3 separate regions of the Homo sapiens genome follow, and regions 1 and 2 are each linked to region 3. The links come from fine-mapping of genetic effects on gene expression. A gene starts in region 3. Each other region holds a variant in brackets. All regions are shown on one strand. Distances are from middle to middle.

Region 1 (5,000 bases), 43 kb after region 3:
GTGTTTTACACATAGAAAAATGTTGATCATGCACTGCATAGAGGTCAATGATGAATGGTAAAAGGTCTGAGTCCTCAGATCCCCTCCCGGCATCCCAGTTATCCCCAGCTGCCTCTCCTCCATCGCACTTCAGAAGTGCTGCGATGGGCAGAAGGGCAGCTGACACTCCGTGATGTCCCTCATTCTGTGTTCCTCCGTGAGCTCAGGGAAGACACTGGTTGGCATCCAACAGCTTAGTCACAAAGGGATTTGATTGTTGGGAGTGCTGGTATCTGTGGCTATGATCTGCCTTGTTCAAGCTGAGACCTCTGATTGAAAATCCCCCAGGGGTTTTAATTGTTTACATAAGGAGTCCTGATGTTTCCTTTTGTAAATTATGCCTGTGGTGACCTTGTCTAGTCTGACTTTAAATATGGAACTGACTTTCAGCAGCATGGCGCAACATCGAGGCTTTAAAAATTCTTTAATTTGATATAATTCAGACATAGAAAAATTACAAAAACAGTACAGCAGGTATCTGTGGTAGAGCTGATTTCAAATTCAAGATTGAGGATGGGGAGCACGTGAAGCTTGGTGCTAGTGATGTTGAATTTTTGTTTTTAATGTTATTTTTAGTGGGAGTTTTATCCTTTTGGTCTTGATACCTCACCTTTGGCCAACACTCAAAGATAGGCTTCCTATGAGATACATGGCCCCTGGATAAGACTCAGTGAATGAAATTGTTGCTTCTTGTCCTGTTTGGGATGTGTGTGTGTGTGTGTGTGTGTGTGTGTGTGACAGGATCTTGCTATCACTCAGGTGGAGTACAATGGCACTATCATAGTTCACTGCAACCTCAACCTCCCAGGCTCAAGCAATCCTCTTGCCTCAGCTTCCCAAGTAGCTGGGACCCCAGGCGCATGCCACCACTCCCTGCAAATTTTTAAAAAAATTTTTTTGTAGAGATGGGGGTTTCACTGTGTTGCCCAAGCTGTTCTTGAACTCCTGGGCTCAAGCAGTCCTCACACCTTGGCCTCCCAGTGTGCTGGGATTGCAGGCGTGAGTCACTGTGCCTGACCTGTTTCTTTTTCCTTTGCTGTCTTATCGCTTTGAGTGTTCCTGGCCGGATCTCAGGGTGGTCTGACACTCTGACTCTGGAGGTAAGGATGCTGTGGATACTTTGCCAGCATAGGCAGGGCCTGGCGCCCTGAGGCTCACCCTGGCTGTGTTCTCTCTCCTAGCACACACTCACGGGACACAGTGGGAAAGTGCTGTCTGCTAAGTTCCTGCTGGACAATGCGCGGATTGTCTCAGGAAGTCACGACCGGACTCTCAAACTCTGGGATCTACGCAGCAAAGTCTGTGAGGAAATTCAGTCTCTCTGTCTGTGTATATGCTTAGATGTTAGCGTGGAGGTGTGTGTTTGCACGTCAGAGCCTGCATTTATGTAATATAGTTTGAATTTCAGATCTGGCTTCATGTTTAGAGGGGCACTGAGGATAGTGATAGTTTTTCTTGTTTAAAGCTTCATTTAAGTGAGTAACTCTGACAAGTCAGTGGTTAGAGGGTGGCAGCATTATGTAAACAGCCACGTTGGTGCCTCTGCTTGATTAATGATGTTTGCATTTCTTTCAGGCATAAAGACAGTGTTTGCAGGATCCAGTTGCAATGATATTGTCTGCACAGAGCAATGTGTAATGAGTGGACATTTTGACAAGAAAATTCGTTTCTGGGACATTCGGTATGATACCCAAGCTCCTGACTGGAGGCACATAAGAGTCTCCACAGTAATGGTTCTGTACATGGGTTGTGCTTTTAAGATCTCAGGACATGGCAGAAATGAGTTTCGGTACACGTATAGTGTTAGCTTATTAACACTTGGCTGTTCTTTCCCATGAAGTAGACTGTGGAGCTTAGCAATCATTTATTGAGCATGCAGTGAGTGCTAGGCCCTTCACCAGCTGGCAGGTAAGAAAAGGCAAACAGGATACTCTTTCTACCTTTAGGTAATTTAAACTGTAGTAGGGAAGGCAGAACGCAAAAGTCAGTGACTAGTGTGTTGAAGTGGAGGCAGCTACGTTTGTTCCAGTGTGTTAAAGAATGCCTCTCCAGATTTCTCCGGAGACGTGAGTAGGATTCACACGGCAGGAAAGCCACTCAAACTTTTGAGTGTGTGTCTGGTGGCTGATACATGGCAAGTGA[G/A]CAGGAAACAGGGCAGAAGCCAGTGAGGGGGCTATGAGGGGTTGAAATCAGGTTGCCACAGGCTTGATAAGCCATTGTCAAATCACTCGATCTTGTAAGTCGTTGGGTGTTTAGCAAGGAAATGGTTGCTTTGCAGGAGTCTAGTAGACGACTTTGGTGGCATTTTGAGAGGGCATATTAGGGAATAGGAAACCAATAGAGTTGATAAGGACCTAAGTTCAAGTCAGTAGAGGAACATGTGGAGGAGAGAATCTATTTGAAGGAGAATTTGGACAGGGCTTATTGACAGGTTGGAGGAAGGGGAAGACAGGATGGAGAGTAAATGAGGACAGCCTCCCAGCAGGGTTGTAGAGAGGGTGGGGGTACAGGGCCTGTGGTGATAGATGATGCTTTGAAACACAGCATGGCACCAGAAAGTCCTGACAATGCTCATGGTTCCTGGACACCACTTCACATTTTATTCATAATCTTTAGTTTGCTTTTAAAACCTGAAATTGGAACTTGAAAGATGGAATTTGAGAGTTAAGTTGGATGTTCGAAGTCTCTTAGTCCATCCCATAATTTGACAGGTGAAGACCCTGAGTCCCAAGGAAGTGGAGTAGCTTGCTTCAAGCTGCATATTTAGCAACAATAAGATAAATTCTTGCTTAGTTAAGGTGGGAGGTAGGAAAAGGTTTCATTGAAAGCCTACAACAAAATCATCACAGAACAGGTCAGCACCCCCTTTGGCTATGAATGTCACCAACAGGGCCCTGCCCAGGGTGGCTGTTAGCCACCCTGGACATGGGCCACAGCACAGAGAAGAAGAGGGAGGTGCGTAGGGCCGTGGCTCTGCCCTGGCTTTCCTGGCCCCATATCTGGAGGTGGAGGGCCACAGAGCCACAGTGAATAGGGCAGAAAACCTGCAAGAGGCTAGAGTTACACTTACAAGGCAGCCCAGGCCCACTAATGCAGGTTTCTTTGCCAACTTTATCCAAAAGTTGAAATCACATCACTGAAAATAATACGAATTGGGTAGTAGCCCTAGTTAGCTCATGCTGATCAGAAACCGATGGGCGATTGTTGTCATTCCAAAAATGGATGAGGAAATTCTTACCAACTTCAGAGTTCTAGTCTGGGAATGACTGTCTTAGGGTCTGTTGATGGGAAAGTAAGAAAAGCAGTCACAGGTTATTAGAAGACTGGGAACACATTGACTGCGCTGGCAGAGCGTTGCATGCTAGTTGAATTGCAGTGCCTTTTTTTTCCTCCACGGCATGATGTGAAGTAGTTCTGGCCTACGTTACATTTCTCAGATCTGTTCTCCCTCTTAGATCAGAGAGCATAGTTCGAGAGATGGAGCTGTTGGGAAAGATTACTGCCCTGGACTTAAACCCAGAAAGGACTGAGCTCCTGAGCTGCTCCCGTGATGACTTGCTAAAAGTTATTGATCTCCGAACAAATGCTATCAAGCAGACATTCAGGTAACTGAAGATGTGCTGGTTGCATGAAGACCAGAGGCCCAGCCCTGCTCTCTTAACGTGCTGCGTGGCCTGAGCTCCCTCAGTGACAGTGCCCTGTTGTTTGTTTCAGTGCACCTGGGTTCAAGTGCGGCTCTGACTGGACCAGAGTTGTCTTCAGGTTAGTAGTGACCCACCCCCCGCCAATTTGGTTCATCACAAAGAGTCCTGCATGGGCATTTTCCCACTGGGGATATAGAGCTAAATTTTGTTCAGTGCCCAACCTATGTTTCCAGGAGTGTGCCTGTAAGTTCATAATTGCAGGCCACCATTATTGTCTCTTCCTTTCCAGTGTTCCTTTTGTGATTACATGAACCTAACGTGTTGTACCAAAAAATAACAGTTGGCTGGTTGCTTTGTTGTGGGTGAGCCCATTAGGTTCACTTCTCATCACTCATTCACGCAAGAGCTGTTGGAGAGCCTTTAGAAAAGGGCAGGAGTGGCCGTGGGCCTGGGGCGGGACTGAAAAGGCTTTTTGGAGAAGGGTGTGCAGGTGGTCTGCAGTTTTCTGCTCCTTGTTCCCTTCTTCCATGTATCCTGCTTCTTCCAAATACCTTTCCAGGCTCAGTTGCTAAGATGTTTCTTTTCTTCCCTCCTCTCTTTGAGGCATGTAACAAGGCAGTCCATGGGCTGAAACCCTTAGCTATGTGGAGGTTGGCTTTGATCTCCCTATATGTTGTTTTGTTGAAGTCTGTAGATGGTTAAGGACTTGGAGCCCCAAGAAGCAATGTGATGCCACTGTTCATTAGCCGGACGGGGCTGAAATACTGGGGAAAAGCAGATTTGGCTGGAAGGGCCATGACTAGCACACATTCTGAGGTCTGGGTACACAGGAGTGGTCATCAGTGAAGAACAAACATTCCTTCTTGGGAAAAAGGCCACAGAGATGCTGAATTGGGGGTGGGGAATTGACAACCTTTCTTTTCTTACTGTCTTCTGTAGCCCTGATGGCAGTTACGTGGCGGCAGGCTCTGCTGAGGGCTCTCTGTATATCTGGAGTGTGCTCACAGGGAAAGTGGAAAAGGTTCTTTCAAAGCAGCACAGGTAAGATGAACCCTGTCTCAGCCCCCCGTTGCGTTGTGAGCAAGGCCTTTGACTTCATCTCAGGGGTCATCCGGTTTAGACCTCAGTCGGCGCTGTGAGGGCACTGTCCGCCCACCTGCTCGGCTGGCTGAGCTAGGTCAGTGGAGAGAAGCTGGGGCCACTCACACAGCACAGCAGGCCACAGTCTACAGAGTACGCCAGGTAGAGCGGTTAGAGTGGCAGCCGCTGGAGAAAGGGTTATAGAAACACATCCCTGACTCTTTGGTTATGTCCACG
Region 2 (10,744 bases), 540 kb after region 3:
GCCTTACTAGAAGCAGAGGCCGGCAGCATACTTGCTGTGTGGTCTGCAGAACCATGAACCAAAATAAACCACTTTTCTTTATAAATTATCTAGCCTCAGGTATTCCTTTATAGCAATGCAAGAACAGACTAACACGGGCTTTTAAAAAATGTAGGCCAGGCGCAGTGGCTCATGCCACTTTGGGAGCACTTTGGGAGCCAAGGCGGGCGGATCACGAGGTCAGGAGTTCGAGAGCAGCCTGACCAATGTGGTAAAACCCCATCTCTGCTAAAAATACAAAAATTAGCCAGGCGTGGTGGTGCACGCCTGTAATCCCAGCTACCCGGGAGGCTGAGGCAAGAGAATTGCTTGAACCCGGGAGGTGGAGGTTGCAGTGAGCTGAGATCGTGCCACTGCACTCCAGCCTGGATGAAAGAGCGAGACTCCATCTCAAAAAAAAAAAAATGTAGGCTTTGTTTTTATTCAGCTATGATGAGACCAACAGCTCAGGAGACACTTGCTCTTGAAAGGACAGTTTATTGGCTGGGTATGGTGGCTCATGCCAGGAGTGCAAGACCAGCCTGGGTAACATAGCAAGACCACATCTCTAAAAAAATTAATTAATTGGGTATGGTGGCACCTGTCTGTAGTCCCAGCTACTTGGCAGGCCGAGATGGGAGCATTGTTTGAGCCCAGCATTTTTGAGTCAAGGCTGCAGTGAGCCATTTTGCACCACTGTACTCTAGCCTGGGTGACAGAGCGAGACTTTGTCTCAAAAAAAAAAAAAAAAAAGGAGAAAAGACAGTTTGTTACATTCCCAAGAGAGGGGGCCAACCATGCCATGCAGGGTCACACAGGGGAAGCACTAGGGTCTGTGAGGAGGCAGAGGGAGTCAGGGGAAATTATAGGCAACAGGCTTTATTGTGGTTTCTGTAGAAAGAAACTGGTGAGGTAGGGTAAGAAGGCTTAGAATTAGCTAATTTGAATATTCTCAGTGGACTCTGGGGCAAAGTAGCTGTCCCTGGCTGTTTGATACCTCCCCTGTGTGATTAGGACAGGTGGATAGTGGCCCAGAGTGTGAGAGCCCAATAAAGGAGGTGATTGGGAGAGGGGCTCTGTGTTGGTTGGAATACTGTGTTCAGGATGCCCTAATGGAGTACTATAGTATGGGTGGCTTAGAAAACAGAAATTTATTTTCTCACAATTCTGGAAGCTGGAAGTCCCTGATTGAGGTGCGATATGGTTTGGCTGTGTCCCCACCCAAATCTCACCTTGAATTATAGCTCCCATAATTCCCACATGTTGTGGGACGGAACAATTGGGAGATAATTGAATCATGGGGTGGTTTCCCTCATACTGTTCTCATAGTAGTGAATAAGTCTCACGAGATCTGATGGTTTTATAAGGGGTTTCCCCTTTCTCTTGGCTCTCATTCTCTCTTGCTTGCTGCCATGTAGAACATGACTGTGTTCCCCCTTTGTCTCCTACCATGATTGTGAAGCCTCCCAACCACGTGGAACTATGAGTCCATTAAACCTCTTTTTCTTTATAAATTACCCAGTCTCAGGTATGTTTGCATTAGCAATGCGAGAACAGACTAATACAAGGTGCCAGCAAATTTGGTTTCTGTAAAGCCTTGCTTCCTTGCTGGCTTTCTTGTGTGACTGCCCTCTCACTGTGTCCTCACGTGGCTCTCCTGTGCATGCGCACAGTGGGAGAAAGCACTCTTGTGTCTTCTGCTTCTTTTATAAGGGCACCAATCCCATGAGATTAGGGTCCCACCCTTGTGACTTCATTCAACCCTAATTACCTTTCGAAGGGCTCATCTCCAAATACTATCCCACTGGGGGTTAGGGCTTCAACATAGGAATTTTTAGGGTACATTATTCAATCTGTAACAGTTGTTTTGTACTTAAAAAGCATGCTGATGGACAACTTGTTACTATCTCTAGGAACTGGCTAGCTCTGGGAGGAGTAGTCTCTCTAGGGTCAGCAAGGACCCAGGTGCCAAAGCATCAGGAAATGAAGAAAATAAGAAACCATGATTAACACACAGGTCTTAATCAGTCATCAGTGGCAATAAACAGACAATAAACAAATAGGCACATTTTAAAATTAACATGCATCAAAGATTTTATTTTCTCCTTAACTAGTTAAGGAACTAGTAAGATGTTAAAAGCTGTTCAAATGAGAATTTTACCTGTGCTTTACCAGACAAAATCCATTTGCACTGCCATGAACAGGAATCATTTTCATTCCTATGTAGGAAACACGTGCATTGTTATCAGTTTTCTAGGATTTAACTTTTTTCCCTACAGAGATGTAAAGTAGCCTTGGCAATCACAGATGCACACTCTACAGAATCCAGTAATTCCACAGCATCTGCCAGACAGAACCAAGCTCTGCTCTGGAAGGCCACTCAGTGATCGCTTTTGTTATTTCCAAGTCTTTGACAGTTTTTCTCTTGTGACTATAAATATTCTCCGAAGATTATTCTTGATCACAAAAAAGGCTGATCTTCTTATAATTTGCCTGGCTATTTGTACAGGGTGCAGTAAGAGTGTTAATTAAGCATATTGGCCTCCTTGAGTTTACTGTGAAAATCTAGAGCTTGCATTCTCAATGGGGTGATATTGCCCCCCAGTTAAGTAAAACTAGTTCTTGGGGGACAAAGAAAATTTTACTTTTTCATTATAAAGCATGGATATGTATAACACACACACACACACACACACACATATGTATATACATATACATATATATTATATATATATACACATATACATATATAATATATATACATATACATATATATTATATATACATATATATTACATATATCATATATACATATATATTATATATACATATATATTATATATATCATATATACATATATATATTATATATTATATATATCATATATACATATATATTATATATATTATATATATCATATATACATATATATTATATATATTATATATACATATATATTATATATATCATATAAACATATATATTATATATATCATATATACATATATATTATATATATTATATATATCATATATACATATATATTATATATATCATATATAATATATATTATATATATTATATATAATATATATTATATATACATATATATTATATATACATATATATTATATATACATATATATTATATATACATATATATTATATATACATATATATTATATATATACATATATATTATATATACATATATATTATATATACATATATTATATATACATATATATTATATATACATATATTATATATATACATATATATTATATATACATATATTATATATATACATATATATTATATATACATATATTATATATATACATATATATTATATATACATATATTATATATACATATATATTATATATACATATATATTTTATATATATATAATATATATTTTATATATACATATACATATATTATATATATACACACACATATACATATATATGGCATTAAAGTCTCGTTGGGGTGTGATTAGGAAAAAAGTCTAAATGTCCTTGGGAGTAATAATAATAATAATAATAATAATAATAATAATAATAAAGATTGAGAAACACTGGTCTTGAGCCACACAGCACTGAGCAGCTACTAAGGCCACATCATTAATTTCTGGGAGCTGTCATAGGGATTTCTGATTGGAGTTTTACAAATCCCTATTATTTGCTATCCCAAAAGTAGGAAACCAAGACCAAGACTCCCTGTACTGGATTTCACCAGTAGAACTTACACATTTGGGTGAATTCCTCTCTTCTTAAGGTCCCCAAATTTGCTAAGGATTCTGGACTGTTGGGAGTGACCTCCCTACCACCAGAGGAGGAAGGACATTTTTTCCTGAGGGCTTTGCAGGCAGTGGCTCCACCTAGAAAGTAACCCTCATTCCTTAAGAGTGGCTTGTCAGCCGGGCGTGGTGGCTCACGCCTGTAATCCCAGCACTTTGGGAGGCCGAGGCCGGCAGATCACGAGGTCAGGAGATGGAGACCATCTTGGCTAACACGGTGAAACCCCGTCTCTACTAAAAATACAAAAAAAATTAGCCGGGCGTGGTGGCGGGCGCCTGTAGTCCCAGCTACTCGGGAGGCTGAGGCAGGAGAATGGCGTGAACCCGGGAGGCAGAGCTTGCAGTGAGGCGAAATCGCGCCACTGCACTCCAGCCCGGGCGGCAGAGCGAGACTCCGTCTCAAAAAAAAAAAAAAAAAAAAAAAAAAAAAAAGAGTAACTTGTCATGCCTGATTAAAAGTATTCTCAAATACGACCCTCCAGGTGTGATCTGGGATGTGCAATCTATCTGCCCAATCCCATCCTAAACCAGGTCATTTTCAGTGGTGATAAGCGCTATCATGCAGGAATTGGAAGAGAGTAAGAGGCAATTTTCCTGGGCCCACAGACTCCCTCAATAGGGCAAAGGCAAGGTGAGCCTGCCTTCTTTGGGCTTTCAAGATGGCCAATGCCCCATGCATAGAGAACCTTGTGTGTTGATCACTTAACACCTGCCTTGCCAGATATTTACTGAAATCGGGCAGGAATACAGATACGCAAGTCATATTGACAGGGCCAGTGGGATGAGAAGGGCAGGAGAAGCGAAGCAGGAGGATTTAGAAATGGAGGAATGGGGATCTAAGATTTGTGTGTTTGGAGGCTGGTGGTTTGGGTGTAGGGAAGGAGGACAGTGGGAGAGAGAGGTGGACTTGTGCTGGGGGCAGGGTGAGGTCCATTCCACCCACCATACTTGTTTCCCAGATTTCCACCCAGCGCAAGGTCAACATTTACAACATCCTCCAGGACATCATCCAGCAGGAGGGGGAGCTGGAGGAGCAGTGCGTGCAGAGGCTGGTGGCCATTGCCTCCAAGGAGATGAGGGAGATCCCAGAGGTAGGACCCCAAGCTCCATCGGTGCCTTCCCTCTGCCAGCCCAGGAGCTGGGCCACGGGGGGCCTGGCCCAGGATGCCCACAGCCCTGTGCAGTTACCTCTCAGAGCAGGGGTAAGGCTGAGCCCAAGGGAACCAGGAGGGGTGGAGAGAGCCTGGGGTAGGAAGGTTTTCCTGGAGGCCCGGCTGGTGGTGGTGCCATATGTCCCTCTTCTGTCTCCTGCAGATGGAGGGCTATATGAAGGCAGAGGTGGCCAGCGACACACTGGTGGCTCTGTCCCGAAACCACTTCAGCTTGGTCATGTACGAGCTGCAGCACCACCTCAAGCCCCTCAACCTCACTGATGAATTTGTCATCATCACACTGGCCAAGCTGGCCAACGGCAATGGTAGGGGCTTGAGGGCCCTCAGCCGGGCCCAGTGTGCCCTTCTGGTCTCTGCCTCTCTCTGCCCCTCCCATCTATCCCTATGTTCACCTCTTCCTCTTACCTTTCATTTCTCTCTTTTTCCCTCTAAAATTGATTCATTTTGTGTCTGCAGTCCTTTTGTCTCTTAGCTGTTAAGATTCTGTGTGTTCTGTCTCTCATCCTTCTTCCCCCTCTCTCCTGCTCCCCTCCACCTGCATTGTTCTGTCTTTCCATCTCTCTTTCTTTTTTAATTTCCTTCCTTCCTTCCTTCCTTCCTCTTTCGTTTCCTTTTTTATT[G/A]CCTGCCTTACTTACTCCTTCCTCTCCCTCCCCCTTTTTCTCCTTCTTCCCTCCCTTCCTCCCTTCCTCCATCCCACCCTTCCTTCCTCCCCTTTTCTTCTCTCCTTCCTTCCTCCCTCCCCCCCTTCCTTCCTCCCTCCCTCCTTCCTTCCTCCCTCCCTCCTTCCTTCCTTTCCTTTTTAATTGCCTGCCTTACTTACTCTTTCCCCTCCCTCCCCCTTTCTTTTTCTCCTTCCTTCCTTCCTTCCTCCCTCCCCTCCCCTTTCCCTCACCTCCCCTCCCTCCCTCCCCTCCCCTCCCCTCCCCTCCCCTCCCCTCCCCTCCCCTCCCCTCCCTCCCTCCCTCCCTTCCTTCCTTCCTTCCTTCCTTCCTTCTCCATCCTCCCTCCCTTCCTTTCATCCCAGAAGCATGCGCTGAGCTCCTACTCCATGCAGGCCTTGTGGCAGGTACCTGGCCACTACAATACATAAGACACACATGGCTCCGGTGCTCAGAAAGGACCAACAGGCAAACAAGGAAATAGACGTTTATAACAGGAGGTGACGGGTATGAAGAGAGCAGCCAAATGGGCGTTTGAGATCTGGCTAAGGGAGGGGACCTCATCTCTGCAGCCCTTGTTGAGGTAGCGATATTTCAGCTAAGACCTGAAGGCAGAGAGGAGGATGTCTGTGTGAAGCATAGGACCGGGAGAGCATTCCACACGGAGAGAACATTGCAGAGGCTCTGGGGCAGAGAAGAGCTTGGAATCTCTGAAGAGTTGAGAAGTGGCTGTGGCTGGAGTTAAGGAGTGAGAGAGAGATGAGGGGGAGCGTCAGGCAGGGCCTTGGGGACGTCACCTCGGGCACTAGGAAGCTATCGAAGGACATTAAGCTGCAGGGTCGCCTGGTGAATGCAGGTTGTGGGAAGGCCTTTCTGACTGCTGCCTGGATGGAGAGTACTAGGAGGTGGGTACTTGTGATGGTGGCTGGGCTGGGAAGCATGTGGTGAGGGGTGACAGGTGGGAAGGGGCTCTGAGACGGGACCTGCTGAGGACGGGGGAAGGAGCAGAGGTAGCAAGCCACTGGGAGCGTGTTGGCCTCCTTTCCCGAGCTAGAAGCACTGAGAGTTGGGAGCTCAAGTGAAGAACTTCATGCTGTGTGTGGAGCTCATGTTGCCTGTGGGAGCCCCCAGGGGAGAGGTGAAGGGGGCAGTTGATTTGTGGCGCGGAGTTCAGAGGGCAGGTCTGGGCTTGGCTTTGGTTCTTGGTGACCTCAGAGTGCAGGTGATGTTCAAAGCCATTGATATCCGGGAGTGAAAGTAGAGAGAGGACCCAGCCCGGAGGGGTCCTGGCATTGGCAAGGCTCGGGAGGAGTCGTAAGAGACAGCGTGGAATGTGAGGCCTGGCACAGGGAGAACAATCTCAAGGGGTGCAGGCCCCCGTGATGCCCATCCTGCCAAGGGGTCCAGTGAGATAAGGCTGGAGAAGGCGGGAGGTGGAAGAGCTTCACGGCTTGCTGGGGATAAAGGCCTGGATGGAGTGGGAGGGGAGGAAGGGAAGGCAGGCCTGGAAAGAGGACAAGGGACAGCAGCGAGGGGGATTATTATGAAGTCTGAAGATGGGGGTGCACTCAGGGTGGGTGAAGTGGAGGGGCCTGCCTCCTGTTGCAGGGTGGCCTGTTACGGCTCCCTTCCTTCATCCGTCTGCTCTTTTTCTCTGCTGGCCTCGTGCCTTCTCTCAGTTCCTTGCTCTCACCTGCTGTCTCCCTGCTTCTGTGTTCGCCCAAGAACGTTTGTGGGACCCCTGAAGGAGGCTGGCCTGTGTCCGGGAGGATGGACGCACTCTGGGGGCTGCTTCTTTCTGCTTCTTGCCCCTCCTTCCCTGGGGCTCCTCTGTCCTCTCTTCCCTCCCTCTCTCGGACCTCCTCTTCCTTCTCCTGGTCCTCTCTCTTCTTCCCTTTCCTCCCCTTTTGCCTGGCTTTCTTCCTGTGTCACCTGCTTCTAGCTCACTTTTTTTTTTTTTTTGAGATGGAGTCATGCTCTGTCGCCCAGGCTGGAGTGCAGTGGCGCGATCTCGGCTCACTGCAAGCTCCGCCTCCCGGGTTCACGCCATTCTCCTGCCTCTGCCTCCCGAGTGGTTGAGACTACAGGCGCCTGCCAACACGCCCGGCCAATTTTTTGTATTTTTAGTAGAGACGGGGTTTCAACCGTGTTAGCCAGGATGACCTCGATCTCCTGACCTCGTGATCCGCCCACCTTGGCCTCCCAAAGTGCTGGGATTACAGGCGTGAGACACCGTGCCCTTCTAGCTCACTTTTTAATGCTTTTCTGACTCCTGGACTATTTCCTGGGCCCCAGCCAGGACAGAGGGCTAAGCCAGCTCTGGACTGTTAGGGGTTGGAGGTGGAGGGCAGCAGGGTTGTCCTCTCTGCCTTCTCTCTGCTCACCCCCAGCCCCAACTTCCTGTAATCATCCCTCACAACCTCACAGTGTTTGAGTTCATGCCATACATGGGCATCACCCTGGCTACCATATTCACCATGCTGAGACTTGCCAATGAAGCCAAGATACGCCAGGCGATCTGCAGTGGTGAGTGTCCCACTTGAGCCTGCAGGTCTGGCTCGATCAGGGCGCCGGAGGGAGACTGCTGGGTAAGGAGCAGATGGAGGGGTTGTTGAAAAAGAGGTGCACTGTTCACTTGTTCTCCAAAGGAGTTTGCTTAATCTTTTACTTCGTGTGGCCTCTGATTGGCTGCCTGGGGCACAAGAGGCTGAGACATGGTGGGGGCCTTTTAGAAGATCCCGGCTTAGAGGGAAGAAGCTGCAACGGTGACTCCATTTAGCTTGCTTTGTAATTAAGCACTTCAGTTCATGAGACCACAGAACAGCAATGAGCATTCACAGGAGAGGGAGACCGGGGAAAACGGCTCCATGTGGAGCTTGACGGGGACTGGTCTTAGATGCTATTTCAATCTGATCACCTTGCCCCAGATTTTGATTACTTAATGTTCTTGTGGGCTTATAAAAAGCCCTAGTGCCTGAGAAAAAGAGGGCCACATGTGTTCACTGTTCACTGCCCTCTGACCTGGAATCCCCAGGATGTGGGCAGGGTCATACTCCAGGCCTCGCCCTTGACCCCGTCTCTGTCCTTGAAGGAGAGGGACCCAGACACCCCCGAGTGCTCAGTTCTCACACACACAGGCACGCAGAGTAAAAATGAAGGTGCTGTGGGGGGTTGGAAGGGCAGGGTGCAGCCTGCTCGCTACGGCAAGGCATGAGCACTTCCACTCGGGAAGCTGGGCTGGGAAGGCTTGGTTCTGCTTCCAGCCCCTCTGGCGCCAAGTGCATTCCCCTGTTGCTGTTGGTAGCCATGGAGACCTTCTGTGAGACGGTGCAGTTTTATCTGAAGCACCTGGAGGAGAGCGTGTACCCCGTGATGACTGAGGAGGAGTTTGCCCTGAAGGTGTTCCCCATGTATCGCTACTTCGTGACAGTGTGGCTGAGGCACTACAACCCCGAGGTGAGATGCACCCCTCTTAGGAGGGCCTGGTGGTCCCCAGGCCACAGCTCCCCAGCCTGTGGGGCCGGGAGGTGCTGAGGGACCGTCGGGTCCACACTTACTCCCAGGACCCTAGAGGGCAGTGACCTGACTCATGGCAGAGCCGGGGAACTCATGGATGCTGAACAGCTGGGACCTAGGAGCCTCATCCACGAGGCCAGGCTTGATGAAGGTTGGTGATAATCCTGAGAGCACTTGTTACATGCTGGGCACTCTACCAGCGTCTTACCCATGGGAGCTATTTTCACACCCACTCTGTGATATAGGACTAGTTGACAAATGAGGAAACTCAGGCACAGAGGGGTTAAGTACCTGCTCAAGGTCATGTGGCTGCTAAGTGGGAGGGACTCAAACCCGGCCGCCTGTGCAGGAAAGACCTTGCTCTGCTTCTGAGGCGCCTTCTGTCCTGTGTCCTTGGATTCTGTGGCTGGGGCTGAGGTCACTGGCCTTGCTGGAGGGTGGTGAGACAATGCGTCCCAGAGCTGGTTTCTGGTGGCAGGTGAAGCTGGGGGTGATCAAGTCCCTGAAGCCCATGCTCGGCCTCCTTCTGCCCAACGATGACCTGCGGGAGCAGGTCTACGACTACATCCCCCTGCTGCTGGCGGAGTACCAGGGCAGTCTGGAGGTGCTCTTCGTCACGCAGGCGAGTGGCCAGGCAGCCACGGCTCTGGGCAGGAGGCTTAGGGAATTGGGGGCTCCCAAGTGTTTAAAGGGGATGAGTGGGAGCCGGGGGGATGTCAGATATTTTGACACTGTGTCAGGAACCCGACATCTGTGCCCTGCGAGGGAGGGGCGTGGAGCCTGGCACCCGTGGGACTCATGGGAATGAACACTGCCCTTCCGGGTGGAAGGGACCAGGTGCTGGTCCCTCGGAGGCTGCAGTGAGGCTGTGGCCTTTGCATTAGTTTGTTAGGGTTGCTGTAACAAAGAACCACACATGCGTAGCTTGAAGCAACAGAGATGTATTCTCTGTACGTCCTGGAGGTCAGGAGTCCAAACTCAGGGTGTCGGCAGGGCTGTGCTCCTTCTGAAGGCTCTAAGGAAGCAAGCTCTCTTGCCTCTTCCAGCTTCTGGTGGCCCCACATGTTCTGTGACTGTGGCAGCATCACTCCAATTTCTCCCTTCCTCATTGCGTGGCCTTTCCCTGTGTGTCCCTCTGTGTCCTCTTCTTACAAGGACACCTACCCAAAATCCAGGATGATCTCACTTCGAAATCCTGAACTAATTCCATCACAAAGACCCTATTTCCAAATAAGGTCACATTATCAGATTCTGGGCGAGCCTGAATTTTGGAAGGACACCGGTCAACTCAAGGCAGCCTTGGTAGAGGGGTGAGATGTGTGAGATGGAGCCGTTGCAGTGTTCCGCGTGGAGCTGTGGATGGGGCTGGTGCCCATGTAAAGGGATCACTCATCTATAAGGAGGGTGTGGGTCTCAGCTCTTAAAGCAAGGAGTGGAAAGGGATGTGACTGATTTAGGAGCCATCTGTAGATCATTCTGGCTAAATAATGGGATTCACTTTTAAGTGAAGGAGGCCTTGAATGCCACACTCAGGGGCCTAGCGCAGCACTTCCCAAGCCTTGCTGTGGTTAGGA
Region 3 (10,603 bases):
CCCTGCCTATTCTAATATTTCTAATTGTAATTTTGGAGTTATGATTTTTTGGGGGGGGGCTATGATTTTTTTGGGGGTTATGATTTTTTTAATTCGAAATTTCTCCCACCTGCAGATACTATTATTTAGAGCAGAGCTTAACTTACTCAGAAGTTCATGAGATCTCAGATCCAGAAACTTTTCCCAAGAAGCTTGGACATGGATTGCTGGTAAACACAAAAACTGCATGGAGGGCAGAGCAGCCGGTTGACTCCCCCTTGTCAATATCTTAAAGTGGAAAAGCTTGACTTAGTGACTGTCATTTTGTCTGCGCAGCCCTGGTCTTTTCTTAGGCTTGCCTGCTTGTATTAGTCTTGGGTGGCGAGTGAAGATAATAGCTCAGTGTAAACTAGCTTAAGTGACCTGCGGGACTGTGTTGGCTCAAGTCCTGGTGGGGAGAATAGGGCTGGGCTAGTTGCAGGACTGGCTGGAACCAGGGACTCTAACTCCATCAGGGCTCCTGGCTTCTCATCTCTACTTCTCTCTGTAGGATTGTTCCATTGTTTTCAGACTGGCCTTTTCATGAGACAGGGGACACAGCCACTAGCAGATCTAGATCTAGATCCTTAGACTTCACAACCAAAGAAGAAAAGGGACCCTCTCCCCTGGATCCACTTTAAAAATTCCTGTGGAGGATGGTGACTGAGAAGCGTTCCTATGCCTACCCCTGGGGCCAATTTGTTGCAGGAAGGGATGGAGAAATACCATTAACTAGCAGGAGGGTATAATCTGTTACCAAAAGAAAGGTGGAAGGCTGGGCCCGGTGGCTCATGCCTGTAATCCTAGCACTTTGGGAGGCCAAGGCGGGTGGATCACTTTAGGTTAGGAGTTTGAAACCAGTCTGGCCAACATGGTGAAACCTTGTCTCCACTAAAAATACCAAAATTAGCCAGTCAGGTGGCACGCATGCCAGTAATTCCAGCTACTCAGAAGGCCGAGGCATAAGAATCGCTTGAACCCGGGAGGTGGAGGCTGCAGTGAGCCAAGATCTCACCACCGCACTGGCGACAGCCTGGGCAACAGAGCGAGACTCTGTCTCAAAAAAAAAAAAAAAAAGAAAAGAAAAGAAAGAAAGAGAAAGAAGGAAGGAAGGAAGGAGCGGGGAGGGAGGGAGGGAGAGGGAGATTGAGAAAGAGAGAGAAAGAAAGAGCGAGCTAGCCAGGCCAAACAGAAGATGTGTTCTGCCTGTCCCTTCTGGGAGCTGCCCCTTCCCCTCCATCCAAAGGAAGCTGTCCTGGAAGACTGGCCTGCCCCTTTGCCACAAGGATTCTTAGATACGGGCACCTGCTGGTCCATCAGAGTCTTCTCCCAGGAATTGAGAACTGGAGCTCAGAGGCGCCAGCTCTGTTTGGCTGCTTGTGTGTACTGAGGAGCTTTCAGAGGAGCTATTTCTTTACCTCGAGGATGGGAGAACCGCGAAACACAAATGGCTGGGCCACAAGACAAGAGAAGAAGGAAGCAGCAAGCCATGGAGAAGCGGATGCAAAGGGCTGAGCACGCTGGCTGATCTGCATCCTGGTTGCAGTGATTCCTGGGATCCAGCCACATCTCTGCTGCCAGTCTCTGCAGCACACTGAATCCAGACAATAACCCCCCTTTTTCCCTTAAGGTAGCTCATATTGCACTTCTTTTGCTTGCTATCAAAAACATTCTAACTGATACACAATCTCAACCTAAAACAGTCTCAGCCCTCATAGCCTGACACACAGCCAGTAGCATGGTGAAGCAGGTGAGTTCTGGCACCAGGCTTCCTTGACTGTATCTTAGTTCTGCTTCTTCCTAACTTGTGACACCAGACACGTTGCTCTGCTTCTTCCTAACTTGTGACACCAGACAAGTTACTTTTTTTTTTTGGATGGAATTTCACTCTTGTCTCCCAGGCTGGAGTGCAATGACACAATCTTGACTCACTGCAAACTTTGCCTCCCAGGTTCAAGTGATTCTCCTGCCTCAGCCTCCTGAGTAGCTGGGATTACAGGCGTCTGCTATCATGCCCGGCTAATTTTTTTGTATTATTAGTAGAGACGGGGTTTCACCACGTTGGCCAGGCTGGTCTTGAACTCCTGACCTCAGGTGATCTGCCCGCCTCACCCTCCCAAAATGCTGGGATTACAGGCATGAGCCACCATGCCTGGCCAAGTTATTTAACTTCTATATGTCTATTTCTTCATCTCCAAAAAGGAAATATTAATATACCTACATTATCGTGTTGTGAGAATTAAATAAGTTGATCCACGTAACACAGTGCCTGACATGTAAAAATCACTCCATAACATTAACTATTATTTGTAGTGGGAGATTGCAGTAGTGCCTAGGAGAAATTTTATCATCTCTTTAAAGATCAAAGAAACAAACCAAGGAAGATAGCCTCCCCACCTCCACCACGGATCACATTCCCAGCTTGCTAGAGGTGTCATGTTGAATCCTCTGGCCGGCATTCCAGACACCGGCTGCCAATATGCAGAGGAGATAAAGATCTCCAAGAAAGTTGAAATGTTACTAAAATGCTTGTACTGTAGTATAAGGATAATAACACTTCCTCAGACATCATTTTAAAAGTATGAAATTTGGCCAGGCATGGTGGCTCACACCTGTAATTCCAGCACTTTGGGAGGCCGAGGCGGGTGGATCACTTGAGGCCAGGAGTTCTAGACCAGCCTGGCCAACATGGTAAAACCCCGTTTCTACTAAAAATACAAAAATTAGCCAGGCCTGGTGGCAGGCACCTGTAGTCCCAGCTACTCAGGAGGCTGAGGCAGGAGAATTGCTTGAACCTGGGAGGCAGAGGGTTGCAGTGAGCTGAGATCGAGTCACTGCACTCCAGTCTGGGCAACAGACTAAGACTCCATCTAAAAAAATAACAAAATAAAAAATAAATAAATAATATGAAATCTGCCAGGCAAGGTGGCTCATGCCTGTAATCCTAGCACTTTGGGAAGCTGAGGCAGGAGGATTACTTGAGCCCAGGAGTTTGAGGCCAGCCTGGGCAACTTAGTAAGACCCGGTCTCTACAAAAAAACAAAACAAAACAAAACAAAAATTAGTCCCAGCTATTTGAGAGGCTGAGGTGGGAGGATCGCTTGAGCCTGAGAGTTTGAGGCTGCAGTGAGCCGTGATCGCGCCACTGCACTCCAGCCTGGGTGACAGATCAAGACCCTGTCTCAAAAAATGAAATAAAATAATATGAAATCTGAGTGTCAACATATATACGGAGTGAAGGACATGACCTGCATGTGGTTTAATCTATGTACACAGAGATTCTTTATAATGAAAATTTCCTGCCGTGTGCATATATGTGTATACACAAAAGCAACGACCCTAAAAAAAAAAACAAAGAAAAACAAGGAGCAAAAGAGCCAAGTAACATATGCCTATAAGGGGGCATTGTTATTATCATATTAAGAAATGAGGTTTGGACCCGGCACAGTGGTTCACGCCTGTAATCCCAGCACTTTGGGAGGCCGAGATGGGCGGGTCCCTTGAGGTCAGGAGTTCGAGACCAGCCTGGCCAACATAGTGAAACCCTGTCTCTACTGAAAATACAAAAAATTAGCTGGGCATGGTGGCAGATGCCTGTAATCCCGGCTACTCGGGAGGCTGAGGCATGAGAATTGCTTGAACCCAGGAGACGAAGGTTGCAGTGAGCCAAGATGATGCCACTGCACTCCAGCCTGGGTGACAGAGTGAGACCTTATCTCAAAAAATAAAAATAAATAAATAAATAAATAAATAAGGTTTGGAAGGCTCAGTGGTGTGTCTGGAAACCTGTGTTAGTTGGTTTCTTGACTATCCTTTGGTTTACTCTAGCAGCTATCGGGTTTATACAGCAGTTAACACAGTAACACAGTTAACTTAGTTTATTTTCACTTTGAGTAATATAATTTTGGGAAGAGCTGAAAAGGAGTGGAAATAAAGAAAGACTAAGATAATTTTTTAAAAGAATAATAGGAAATGAGATTTTAAGAATAAAAGCTAGAGAAAAACCAACAGAAGATAATTGAATCCCTTTGGTACTGCCATCAGGCCGGCTCTTTGTACTTTATGTTCCTTGCACCCATAACTGATACGTGTTCCAATCTCCCTTCCTAGAGTGAATTCTTTGAAGTCAGGATGCCCATCCCTATGCCCAACCCACACTGGAATTGCACTGTTTTTTTAACCTGCTGAGTGGAAGGTAAAGGAAATCAGGAAGACCCAAAGGGCAGAGAAAAGAGTAAATAGGACAATAGTTTGAAGGTTGGCCCTTGAATTCCTCTGAATTGGAGCATAACTAGAGGATCTCACAGATGAGATGTGTAGGCATCAATGATGGAGGTGAGAATCTCTTGGAAGTTTTTAGCAGTGGAAATGCTGCCACAGAGGTGCTGTTATGTTAAAGCTGGTGGAACTTTGGTTCAGTGAAACTAGACTTTCCACAAAAAAAGTCCTTTGATAAGTGACGCCTTTTCTACTTCCTGTGAGCAAATTCGTGAGGCTTAACATATTGCTACAAGAATCTTGGGATATTTTACATTTATCTTACATCCATTATAGGCAGTCAGACTCCATTTCACAGATGCTGCTTCCCAGCAAAGCATGCTGAATCCTTTAGACAATCACTATTTACCAGAACAAATATAAAAACTCTCAAGATCTGTTATTTGTCACCAGAGTATTCAGACAACCTATTTCCTCCTCCTTCCTATTACTCATCCCCTGTATTACTCACCCTCCAGCCAGTCATTCCCCTCAGGGCCTGTGAACACACCTGAAGCCTCCCCATCACTGACTTTGCTCTTCACCAGGTTGCCCTCCCTATTGGCTAATTTAGGAGTGAGTCACATATTACTTAAAAATTATTCTGTTTCATGTATTCTAGTCCAGTCATACTGCAGTGACAGCCAGAACAGAGACTGGATGATGGAGTGCAGTGGTTAAAGGCACAGATGCTAGAATTAAATTGCCTGTATTTGAACCCAGGTCTTGCCACTTTACTAGCCAGGTATCCTCATGCAAGTTACTTAACCTCCCTGTGCCTCAGATTCCTCGTCTGTAAATAAGGATGAAGATGCTACTGAGCAGGATTATTGTGAGGAGGAAATGAGTTATAATATGTGAAATACTACTCAGAAGAATGCACAGCCCGTAGCACTGTAGAAGTGTTCCTGCTTATTTGTGATCTCCCAGAGTCTACCATGCTTTGACATAAGTGGTTTCATCAATAAATATGTGTTTATTTCTATAACTTTTTTTTTTTTTTGAGACAGAGTCTCACTCTGTCGCCCAGGCTGGAGTACAATGGCACAATCTCGGCTCACTGCAACCTCCACCTCCCGGGTTCAAGCGATTCTCCTGCCTCAGCCTCCCAAGTAGCTGAGATTACAGGCGCCTGACACCACGTCCAGCTAATTTTTTGTATTTTTAGTAGAGATGGGGTTTTGCCATGTTAGACAGGCCGGTCATGAACTCCTGACCTCAGGTGATCCACCTGCCTCAGCCTCCCAAAGTGCTGGGATTACAGGTGTGAGCCACCGCGCCCGGCCCAACTTTTTCATGCATATGTAGTATATATATATATAATGTCTACCTATTAGAAAATGCATATAAAATACACATATAAGAAAAAAACCCAGCAACACCACTGCCTACAGATAATACTATTATCAGTATTTTCACATATTCCATTCATTAATTAAATAACATTTACTGAGCACCTAATACATAAAGGGCTTCATGCTCTTGCTGGAGATATAATGATGTGCAAAAACAGACACAGCTCTTGTCTCATGGAGTTTACAGTCTACTGGGGGAGACAGACCTTTATCAAGTAATGATACAAATACATGTGAACCTATAACTGGGATCAATGCTATAAAGGAGAGGTACACGCGTAACAGGGAGATAAGATCTGTAACAGGTTGTGAAGGTCTCTCATCCTACTGTTGCGAGGAAGTGACTACTGAAATGAGAACGAACACACAGAAATTAATTTGGAGAAGTCAGAAGGGAAGATGTGCCCAACACAGTAAATCCAAAGGCCCTGCAACGAGAGGGAGCACGGTAAGCAGAAGGAAGTAAGAGGCTTCAGCGTGGCTGTGGTTGTGTGCTAGATAAAGCTGGTGAGTTAGGAGGAGGGCAGGACTAGCAGAGCTTCATATTCTTTCTTTAGAAATTATTCTTCATGTGTTCAACAAATATTTGTCTATGATGAGCTAGGGACATACTCATTTTACATAAATTATGACATATACTGCTGTTACTATCAACAATTTCCAGCAATAAATGTACAGTAATTTAACCAATCTCTTATTGTTGGAAATGTAGATTTTTTTCTCCAACTTCTCATCATTATTATAAACCGCAATTACTTTTACACCAACCTAAAAACAATTCTGCAACAAAGATTTTTGTATGTGGACATGTGTCCAAATATTTCTTGGCATAAATTCCTGCAAGTGGAATTGCTGGTTAGGCAAACTGCAAATTTGTAAACATATTTTTATATATATAGAGAGAGAGTCAGGGTCTTGCTCTGTTGACCAGGCTGCTGGAACACAGTGGTGCTATCACAGCTCACTGCAGCCTTGACCTCCTAGGCTCGAGCGATGCTCCCACCTCAGCCCCATCCCAGTAGCTAGGATTACAGGCACACGCCACCACACTCAACTAATTTTTTGTATTGTTGTAGAGACAGGTTGTGTCATGTTGCCCAGGCTGGTTGGTCTCAAATTCCTGAGCTCAAGTGATCCTCTCACCTTGGCCTCCCAAAGTGTTGGGATTACAGGTGTGAGCCACCATGCCCAACCTTGGAAACATATTTTAATCATAAATGTGGGAAATTAACATGCTCAACTGTCAAGATTTGGTGTAATGGTCTTTTAAGGGTGGTGCCACTGCTGCATTTGAAGGCATTCTCGGTCACTTTCAGAACTTTTTCATTTTCTTCAGCGTGTGAGGAAGTCACTTCTATTTCTGATCCCATTGGATCCTTCCAACGACTTCAGGTCCACTCAATACTGACTACCAGTGAACCATCTTCAACTACAGTGCTAGAAGCCTGACTGTCCTCCTCTCCTCAGCCTAAGTTCTTCTTATCTGTCTCTGAAGGACCTTCCTCTGGACTTGAGACACACTGGAAGAGAAGGTAGTTTCTGATATTCCTTTCCTCTTTTGGCCAACTACTTTGTCTGGCTCCATTTTCATGCAGTAAATTCACTAATTGTTAAAGGCAGATGGAGCTCCAGCAACTCTATTACAGAACTGGGTTTTCCATTCTACTGAGCTTGTTCACAGACACAACTTTCTCAGGAGCCAGTGTGTCTTCATCTCCCCCTTTCAACATCTACAGCCTCAGATTACCTTCTAAGGCTCCATTTATTGTCAGGCCACAATTTCTAGGATTCTAACAATGAAGACAAACTCTGATACACAATTCACATCTTTCTTAGCTCCCGTTTCCAGTTCTCTTCTCCATTGCAAACAAAAACAAAAACCCCAAACAAACCACAAAACCTGTTTCCAAGTTCAGTGGGACACTCTTCCCAACGCACCCTGACTTCAGGTATGTAAGAGTTAAGAAACAAGAAAGAAACACGAAAAGCAGCTTAACAATCAAAGACAGGTTTATTTTGGAGAATAAACCTGAGAGGGGCTTCTTGTCGATTTTGGTCAGGAGCGTTTTCTCTTACACACTAAGGGTGTTTAAGGGTTTACGAAGCGGTGAGCTTATTGCAGGTTCGTAATGTTTCTGTATGAGGGAAAGTTTATTGCAGGGTTGGAAAGTCTCTGGCCGGAGGGGAGGCTATCTCTGGGTTGGCATGTTTCTGGTTGGAAGTGGGTTTATCTTAGGGTTGGAATGTTTCTGGTTATGCTGACATTAGCCATTAGGCTGATGTTTTTGGGTTGGATTTAGGCAGTTTCTTAATCAAGGGGAACTTAAAATGGTGGCAGTTGTCCAAGATGGCAATGCTCCTGCTGTCAGGGTAGGCCTTGGGAAGACACCAGGTGTCTTTGTAAACTTAGGTTTCCCCTGTACCAAGCACAGTGCTGACTGCATTACATGGGTTTTTCTTTTTACTATTCGTGACAACCTTCTGAGGTAGGTATCATTACTGTCCCCATTTACAGATGAGACAACTGAGGCTTAGGTAGGCTGTCACTCATCCACAGCCACAGAGCTACTATGGAGGGAACCCCATTTGTTCCTAAACTGCGATTAAAAATAAAAGTGGGGGGAGACAGGCCAAGAAAAAAAACACGAAAAGGGTTGAAAAGCAGCAAAAGAAAAGTAAGCAGTCAGGCGGAAACGGCCCCTTTCCTGCCTCCTTCCCGCCCGGCGCTGGGCCTTGCGCAGGGCCCGGACGCCCCCAAGCGGCCACCTCTCTGCAGCTGACGCTTCCGGCTACAGGCTGGCGTCACTAGCGAGCGCCCTGCGTAGGCACCGGCTCCTGAGCCCGTGCTTCGGGTGAGGGGGCGGGTCTTCCGGCCCTCTCGAAAATCATTTCCGGCATGAGCCGGAAGACCGTCCCGGATGGCCTCGGGGACTGCCAGTGTGTGGAGGTGAGCTCCGGGATTGCCGGCATTCCCGCTTCTGCTGGTTGCTTCATGCTGCAGGCTGCGGCCGTCAGCCCTCGCTCGCATTGGTGGCGCTGAGGTGCCGGGGCAGCAAGTGACATGTCGTCGGGCCTCCGCGCCGCTGACTTCCCCCGCTGGAAGCGCCACATCTCGGAGCAACTGAGGCGCCGGGACCGGCTGCAGAGACAGGCGTTCGAGGAGATCATCCTGCAGTGTGAGCGGCGCCGGTGCGGGCTGGGAGTGGGGCGGGCGGGCCCCGCGGAGGCATGCGGGGCGTCAGCGGGAACCTGAGGCCGAGTCCCTGGCGCCGCCCGCACGCATGGCGGCCGCCCCGGGTAACCCGCGCTTGGGACGCCGCACGCCTTTTAAATGTTTTTTCTAACCTGCGTTTTATCTTTGGAGGATTTTCCCTATTAAATTGTACGATCTTTGTGGGGAGGCACAGTTCGTGTTTGTATTTGTAAATCCCAGTAGCTCATACAATGCTTATGCACTTAAATAGGTCCCAGAAACATCCCATCTATGGGGTCATGTTAATGAAACGGTCGTTGACTTTCAGTCGCAGAATTAACATTGCCTTCTCAATGCACTGGAACGGGTGGCCTTTGATTCCTCAAACTTACTTCCCTTACTCCACCTTGGTGGTTTTTTTTGCGGGGAAACGGGATAGGGGATCAGGGTCTTGCTGTGTCGCCGAGCCTGGAGTGCAGTGGCGGAGATCACGGCTCACTGCAGTCTCAAACTCCCAGGATCAAGTGATCCTCCCACCTAAGCCTCCCGAGTAGCTGGGATTACAGACGCGCTTCACCACGGTCGGCTAATTTTTTTAAAAAAAAATTTTTTGGAACGAGGTCTCACTGTGTTTCCCAGGCTGGTCTCCAACTCCTGCGCTCAAACGATCTTCCCACCTCGGCCTCCCAAAGTGCTGGGATTATAGGCGTGAGCCACCGAGCCCGGCCCCACCTTGGTGTTAATATCGTAATATCTTTTAGGCGGGACAGAACCTTTACTGTTACTGAAATCTTCAGTATGAAAGAGGTGGTTTTCTTTCCCCTTACTGCTTGCAGCTTAAGGGTACAAAAATGTTTGTACCTTTACCTAAATTATAATGGTCCTAAGGTGGTTCCATCTGCGTCTGAAAGTAAACCTGACGACTTTCTCAAGTTATGCTGTTGATGATATTCAGAATAATAATTGCTACCTTATATTGCATTCTGATTGTGCAAAATCAGTAGTTCTCAAACTTAGCTCCACATTAGAATCACCTATGGATCTTTAAAAAATTACAAATCCCAAGCCACACCCCAGACCAACTAAATCACAAGTATCACAGTACACAAGTATCAGTGTGTGTGTGTTTGTGTTTGTGTGAGATTAAGCCTAGAACTGCATGCCAAGTTATCAGTGTTTTTTGATGCTTCCCAAATGACTACTGTGCAGACAAATTTTAGTACTGTGGTAAGTATTTGCATGTGTTATTTTATCTTTCCCAAAATTCTGTGTATGAAGCAGGAACTGTTATTGCCATTTTCACACATGGAACTGAGGCCAAGAGAGATTAGGTAACTTCTGAGGTTGCACAGCAGGTTAATGGTGAGACTGGGTTTTTTTGTTTTTTTTTTTTTTTTTTTTTGGAGACAGAGTCTTGCTCTGTCACCTAGGCTGGAGTGCAAGTGGCGTGATCTCAGCTCACTGCAACCTCCACCTCCCAGGTTCAAGAGATCCTCCTGCCTCAGCCTCCCTAGTAGCTGGAACTATAGGCAAGCACCGCCACGCCCAGCTAATTTTTGTATTTTTAGTAGAGACAGGGTTTCACCATGTTGGCCAGGCGGATCTTGAACTTCTGACCTCAGGTGATGTACCTGCCTCAGCCACCCAAAGTGCTAGGATTACAGGCATGAGCCACAGTGACCAGCCGGGACTGGAATTTGAACTTAGGCTTGATGACTAACTTTTGCATTTGCTTTTCTCACTGGCTCCCCCAGCAAATGGTTCTTTGCTTTCACTGCAC

What was found. PIP is the estimated chance that this variant, and not a neighbour inherited with it, causes the effect. A credible set is the group of variants that fine-mapping cannot tell apart.
Region 1: its variant is the best candidate, but not a certain one, in a credible set for the expression of ATG16L1 in monocytes after LPS (Fairfax 2014, PIP 0.72).
Region 2: its variant is the best candidate, but not a certain one, in a credible set for the expression of ATG16L1 in caudate (GTEx, PIP 0.51).

Annotation. Positions count from the first base shown.
Region 1 is chr2:233,288,634-233,293,633 of GRCh38, forward strand. It overlaps ATG16L1 (autophagy related 16 like 1), which reads left to right. Exons shown (of 18, transcript NM_030803.7): 13 at 1,221-1,341; 14 at 1,615-1,720; 15 at 3,495-3,644; 16 at 3,754-3,801; 17 at 4,623-4,724. It also overlaps SCARNA6. Among named protein-coding and RNA genes, the nearest start is that of SAG, 17 kb to the right of the region's middle. RefSeq lists an enhancer at 51-552. The variant G/A (reference allele first, on the strand shown) is at 2,182.
Region 2 is chr2:233,784,715-233,795,458 of GRCh38, forward strand. MROH2A (maestro heat like repeat family member 2A) reads left to right here. Exons shown (of 42, transcript NM_001394639.1): 4 at 4,783-4,914; 5 at 5,138-5,300; 6 at 8,082-8,180; 7 at 8,959-9,110; 8 at 9,649-9,792. Among named protein-coding and RNA genes, the nearest start is that of MROH2A, 12 kb to the left of the region's middle. The variant G/A (reference allele first, on the strand shown) is at 5,616.
Region 3 is chr2:233,243,137-233,253,739 of GRCh38, forward strand. It overlaps ATG16L1 (autophagy related 16 like 1), which reads left to right and starts at 8,537. Exons shown (of 18, transcript NM_030803.7): 1 at 8,537-8,806. The coding sequence starts at 8,692. RefSeq lists enhancers at 4,145-5,344, 8,125-8,824.